Homo sapiens: one gene and its partner. The protein of the gene in region 1 binds, or shares a complex with, the protein of each later gene. Each region holds a gene or a part of one and is shown on either strand. Other genes may lie near its edges.

Region 1 (3,500 bases):
ACACTTTTTTGAGACGAAGTCTCGCTCTGTTGCCCAGGCTGGAACGCAGTGGCGCGATCTTGGCTCACTGCAACCTCTGCCTCCCGGATTCATGCCATTCTCCTGCCTCAGCCTCCTGAGTAGCTGGGATTACAGGCAGGCGCCACCATGCTGGGCTAATTTTTGTATTTTTAGTAGAGAAGGGGTTTCACCATGTTGGTCAGGCTTGTCTCGAACTCCTGATCTCAGGTGATCCACCCGAGCCTTCCAAAGTACTGGGATTACAGGCATGAGCCACCGCGCCTGGCCCCCTTAAACTCTTAAACCTCACATTTAAACTATGTATTCAGGCTGGGCACTGTATCTTATACTTGTAACCCCAACACTCTAGGAGGCCAAGGTGAAAGGATCACTTCAGCCTAGGAGTTCGAGACAAGACTGGGCAATATAGTGACACCCTCTCTCTCAAAATAAATAAACCAAAACCCTACATATTCAGTAATGCAAGAAAATGTTCAGGTAGAATTACTTACAAAGAGTATTTTAGAGTATCGTCAAGTTCCATGATTGCAGCTTGGTTACCACAACGATAACAATAGTTTGGAGCACTGAAAATCGTTACTACATTCCGGTCATGGCACCAGTTATATCCCTGCAAGGAAAAGGAGACAAAAATCTTACTTTACTCCCTCAATTCAACTAAATGTTACTTCACTCAAGAGAGAAAAAAATCTCTACTCATTCCCACCCCTGCCAAAGGGGCTTAAGAAATGTTAATGCTTTTTTTCTGGATGACTTAATAATCTCCTGTACTTTATACAACCTGTAAGGTACACATGTATTTATTTTCCCCCTAATTACAAAACTTGTTTTTTTTTTAGTACTTTAAAAAAAAAAAGGCTTTAACAAACAGCAGCAACCACCAAAGAATGAAATACTTCTCATGTATCTGCCTTGCTGTAAATGACAATGTCTCATTAGCCTCTTCTCTTGCAGTGGCCTTAAAACATGATTTAAGAATAAGTATTTAAGTGGCCATTCCCTAGAGAAGTAGATACTTAATCCTGGAGACCAGAACCTTACCAATTTTGTCAGTCACAGGTAAAGGCCTGTTAAGTTGGTCACTGCCCAGGAACAAATGCAATATGCCTCTAGGATCTCCAGCCTCATTTCCTCAAAGTCCATCCACCTGAATGCATGAGCTACTTTTGTTACTTTTTGTTTAGTATTGTTCACAATTTCTTTACCTTTAGCAAAGTCAGATTTTATTGATAACCACAGAGTTGTACTAGTATTAATCTAATTAGGACCTTATTTTAAAAATATTCTAATCAGTGTGCCATGTCAAGAACCTTTGCCTCTTTCCCTTCTTTCAAATCACCTGTAATCCTAGCATCCAAAGGACCACTTAAAACATTTTCGTGTATTTCTTTCCAGTCTCTCCTACATACATACATTAAATATACGAAATAACATTGGGATCATAAAATATCATACATGCACACCAACTCCCTATATCTTACTTTCCCACTCTTAAATCTCAAGTACTTCCTAGTCATTCAGATTTCTCTGAAAACATGTTAATGGATTCATTGTAATCAAAAGCTTGAGCTTTTAATTCTAGTAGTGTGCATCTACTGAAAAGGCTCAGGCTATAATGATAAACTCATCAGAAGGAATAGATGGAATTTCTCACAAATGTCATTAATTTAAAACTCCCTAATATCTTCTTTCCTTAAGTTTACTAAAAAAACAAGTCATATTTCAGAGAACACAGCATACCTCCATCACTAGCTGGTGAGCTCTAGACACCAACGTGAGGCCATTGGCATGATTAAATGTCTCAGAAATATCTTGCCCAAAGGTGTAACCAGCTCCTCGAGGAGATATACCCCAACCACCACGGTCATCTGGATCTGACCACAGCAAGTCACACATTGGACCCTAAAAAATAACTTCAAGTTATAAAATGCCTTTTACAAACATGGTTAACACATTATTTGAGTAATTCATCAGAAGCAGCACCCTAAGCCACCCTTTTTGAGTGATGTTTGTGGACAATGCTAATAGACTGTGCAGTTGAAGTCAAACATCTGCATCAAATAAGATGTATTTTCCAGCAGACTTTATGAGACACAGCTGACATCCATGGGACCCAGCAGCAACATGCCCTAATTAATCTGCCTATATTATGCAAATTTCAGAGTCTAAGACAGACAACCCAGGTCCTAATAAGCCCAGCTTCACAGCTGTTGTGATCTTGGCAGGTTTCTTAATGTCAGCTTCTTTTGAACAACAGGGCAGACAAGAGTGCTCACACCTCAAGTTGTTTTTGAGAATTATATGAGAGAATACATCTAATGAACTTACAATTAAACTTCTCCACTCCCTAATAAGTTTTCTGAAAGAATTTTATCAAATAAAAGTCATACCTCATGGGGAACTTCTTGTAGGCGATCAAGTGCTCTGATATGATCCAGTGTATCTATAGATGGCGAGAGACCACCATGTAGACAGAAGATCTGAAAAGAGTGGTTTAAAAGGTTAACCTCACCTAAAAAATTTGTAAACATTCTTGGCTGGGCACAGTGGCTCATGCCTGTAACCCCAGCACTTTGGGAAGCTGAGGCAGGAGGGCTGCTTGAGGCCAGGAGTTTGAGACCAACCTGAGCAACACAGCAAGACCCTGTGTCTCTACAAAAATTTTAAAAAATGAGCTGGGCACCCCCATCACTTGGCCCCTCTGGTGTTTCTGTGCTCTGCCTGAATGAGACTTGACTTTGCAGGGTTCATCTTTGCTCCAGCCCACTCTGAACTATTGAGTACACTCCTGTTCTTCCTAATAGACCATCGCTGTCACAACCAGACTCCACTTCAAACAGCTCCTTTGAGAAAACTTCTTGGATATCACTCCTGCCCTTTGCCAGAGACTAGTATCTTCATACTCATAAAATTTTATTGTAAGTTCTTTTGTGTGCACATCTACCTAGGCCAATAATTAGCTCCTTACATCTCCCAGACTTGTCCAAAAACAGTCTGAGAGGGTAAATGGGCTACATCACCCACCCCTGTGATCCCACCATACAGTTCAGTGCCTGATATAAAGAATAATGCACTTAAAAAAGTTGGACACATTTGTCAAATTAAATTTTTTTTAAGTTTGAATGAATGCTATCAATATCTATTAAAAAATATCCCCAAAGGGGTGTTAAGAGTGGAAAGAGTCATAAGCACCTGAACACTAAAGAAAGCAGATTCTCTGAAATAATCAGCAATGAGTTTTAGATCCACATACCTGCCCATCCACCAAGGCAGTGAGAGGAAGATAGTCAAAAAGATCTGTAAAATATTTCCAAACATTTGCATTTCCATATTTTCTTAAACATTCATCATAGAAACCATAAACTTGTGTGATCTGTCTGCTCTCATGATTCCCTCGAAGAATGGTGATGCGTTCACGGTAACGAACCTAAAACAATAAAATGCAAAACATAAACAACTAGCTCTTTCAAAAACCAATG
Region 2 (3,500 bases), on another chromosome or scaffold:
CATTTTCTTTTTTTTTTTTTTCTTTTTTAGATACAGGGTCTCACTGTTGCCCAGGCTGGTCTCCAACTCCTGGGCTCAAGTGATCCTCCCATTTCAACCTCCCAAAGCGCTGGGATTACAAGCGTGAGACACCACACCTGGCCAGTTCACAGTTTAAATGAAGCTCTTTCCTACTTTAGAACTTCTGCTAAATGCTGTAGCTTCCAACTGGCATGTTCTTTGTACAATTAGGTATTCCCGATACTTCAGATCTAGAAGTATACATTTAGGAACTTTATGAGAATTAAATGTACTGAAGAACCAAAAATAATGTCAACCATATAGAAAGTGTTCAATAGGTCAGGCGCAGTGGCTCATGCCTGTAATCCTAGCACTTTGGGAGGCCAAGGCAGGCGGATTACTTGAGGTCAGGAGTTCAAGACCAGCCTGGCCAACATGGTGAAACTCCATCTCTACAAAAAATACAAAAATTAGCTGGGCGTGTTGGTGGGTGCTTGTAATTCCAGCTACTCAGAAGACTGAGGCATGAGAACTGCCTGAACCCAGGAAGTGGAGGTTGCAGTGAGTTGAGATAGCACCACTGTACTCCAGCCTGAGTGACAGAGCGAAAACTGTCTCTAAAAAAAAAAAAAGAAAGTGCTCAATAAATATTAGGTATTATCTGAAACTCCATTACATATACAGGTTTCCTATCACCATTTATTCTCTCAGCATTCTGCTAATTTGTTGTAACATTTTATTGGCCAGGCATGATGGCTCATGCCTGTAATCCCAATACTTGGACTTTGGGAGGATGAGGTGGGAGAATCATTTGAGCCCAGGAGTTCAAGACCAGCCTGGGCAACAAACTGAGAACCCACCTGAACTAAAAATAAAAACAGCTTGGTGTGATAGTCCATGTCTGTAGTCCCACCTACTCGGGAGGCTGCAGCAGGAGGATCAGTTGAGCTCGGGAGCCTGAGGCTACAGTAAGCCATGTTGGCACCACTGCACTCCAGCCTCGGCAACAGAGTAGGACGCTCTCTTGAAAAAAAAAAAAATTATTTCTAGAGTATAAGCTCCCTGAGGACAAAGTCTGTGTCTCATACATCATTATACACCCAGGATCTAGCACAAAATCGCACTCAAATATCACCAAATAATCATGCTGGAATCAATAAAACTCACAGGCCATACGCAGGGGGAAGGTTCAATGACCTCTATAGTACTAGCGATGGGGAGGATAGTGTTAACTTTAATGTGGCAAGGAATAAAGAATGAGCAAGTGTGTTTTGTCAAGGGAAAGAGGCAGGCACTTGAGATTAACTGAATGGATGTATTGAATTTGAGGTAGAAAAACTAAACGGAAGTTAGAAATACAAGGGACATCTGGACGCCAAAAATCTAGTAGTGGTTAAGAACATGGCCTCTACAGGCAGTCTAAGTTTAAATCCCAGTTCTACTGCCTCCTAGTTGCATAGATTACTTAACCTTTGGGCCTCGATATGCCAGTGTCAGAAAAAATAAAAAAAAGACACCAATTATACCTGTATCAACCTCACTGAGTTGTTTTGAGAATTAAATGAATACTGAATGAATTAAATGAATACTGAAATACTGAAGCACTGAAATAACAATTAGGAAAGAGTAAATAAATGCTAGGTATTATTAAGATGGTACATGGTAGCTAAAAATCTGATTCTGAATATACAGTGAGAACATAAAATAGAACCAGAACCCCACATAATAACAACTGGGAACAAAAGAAAGAAAACATATGAAGAAAAGTGATAAGTGGATGACAGGAAAAACAGAGCGGAAGCAAAAGAAAACAGTTTTGAAGGATTTGTTAACAACAGAGTGTTGGTTAAGTACATACGGTTTATAAGGCCAAAGGATTTGGCAATTTGAAGGTCAATCATGAACAGAAAACATAGTGTTCTACGAAGTGTTTAGAAGGGAGGAGAGAAGAAAGCGAAAAGGCAGACTACAGAGTGGGGTTAATGGGTAGTGGAGGAGCATAAAGAGAATTCTAGATCAGTGGTCCCTAAACTTCATTTCAAGGGCTTCAAAAAGAAACAGGGAATCTGACACAAGGTAGTGGACTCCCTTAATACTATCAATAAAATTTTTTTAACTATTATCACCATCATCTGAAAAAGGAAATGCCTAACAGTAAAAATGTATGAAGGCTAAAAATCCCAGAACAAAGGGAACACCTTTATGAAAAATCACTGTCGGCCGGGCGCGGTGGTTCACGCCTGTAATCCCAGCACTTTGGGAGGCCAAGGTGTGCAGATCACGAGGTCAGGAGATCAAGACCATCCTGGCTAACACGGTGAAACCCCATTTCTACTAAAAATACAAAAAAATTAGCTGGGCGTGGTGGCAGGCACCTGTAGTCCCAGCTACTGGGGAGGCTGAGGCAGGAGAATGCCGTGAACCTGGGAGGCAGAGCTTGCAGTGAGCCAAGATGGTGCCACTGCACTCCAGCCTGGGCGACAGTAGAGCGAGACTCCATCTCAAAAAAAAAAAAAAAGAACATAAACTCTTTGACTACATTTTCTTGTATTAGCTATGTCATATTTTTACACTTGGCAAACAAGCATTTTGTATATACCCAAAATCCACTTACTACATACAAACTATAAAGAAAAATATAAGGACACATTAGCAATATATATAAACTATGCCTTGCAGCAGCATCACAGGCGCTCAATAAAACTTTATTGAAATGTACTCAAGTGGTGTGGGCCACGCAATACTAGATGAAGAATTACAAGTCAGATTCCACTCTATAAAAAAGAGCTAAGACAGTATAACATAATGGTTACAAGAGTGGTAACATGACTACAGGCTTTGGAATCAGACAGACTTGGGTTCAAATCTCAGCTGCAATACTTTATGGCTAGGTGACCTTGGCAAAATGATTTAACCTACCTAAATTTGTCTCCTCACCTGTAAAACAGGAATACTCACCTCATGAGGTTATAGTGCTGATTAAATGGCAGTTTCTAACTTTTAGAAGTCGTAACATGATAGATGTTGCTGCTTAAAGATCCTTAAGTTAGTAGGAGATATTTTGCTTAGACTTACTTGATTTCTTCATTTTTAAGGGGGGAATCTCCTGAATTTTCCATTTTCAGGGTTTTCAAAAGCTGGTCTGGAATAGTAATTTGCAAATCCTAGTGTCTTTTCCATGACAAGATTTTAATGAATCTACTATGAAATTACAAAAAAGAAAAGTGTAGTGTAGTAATTTTTCTCTTTAACAGGCACTACTGTGAAGAAAGAATCACTTGTAGAACTCTAAAAAATATGCAGGCCTCTTATCCTCTGGAGATCTGGATTGATCTAGGGCTTGAAGAAAATGGACTGTCTGTGGAATTTTGGTAATTCATGTTATATAAAAGTTAAGAAACCACTGTCCTATGACCTTACTAACAATGCTTTACCTGAGTCTAAGGTAAGGAAGAATCAGAGACAGAAGAGCTTTAAGATGTGATCCTTTAGTTTGGTTC

The links. The genes of interacting proteins can lie anywhere in the genome.
Region 2: PPP2CA (region 1) and STRN3 share a complex: the UniProt entries of both Homo sapiens proteins name them as parts of the core of STRIPAK complex.

The regions. Positions count from the first base shown.
Region 1 is NC_000005.10:134,198,574-134,202,073, forward strand, and holds part of PPP2CA (serine/threonine-protein phosphatase 2A catalytic subunit alpha isoform), read right to left. Parts: intron 3,449-3,500; coding exon 3,275-3,448; intron 2,502-3,274; coding exon 2,412-2,501; intron 1,935-2,411; exon of another isoform or gene 1,924-1,934; coding exon 1,762-1,923; intron 632-1,761; coding exon 513-631; intron 1-512. UniProt on the Homo sapiens protein: Catalytic subunit of protein phosphatase 2A (PP2A), a serine/threonine phosphatase involved in the regulation of a wide variety of enzymes, signal transduction pathways, and cellular events.
Region 2 is NC_000014.9:31,019,880-31,023,379, forward strand, and holds part of STRN3 (striatin-3), read right to left. Parts: intron 1-3,500. UniProt on the Homo sapiens protein: Calmodulin-binding scaffolding protein which is the center of the striatin-interacting phosphatase and kinase (STRIPAK) complexes.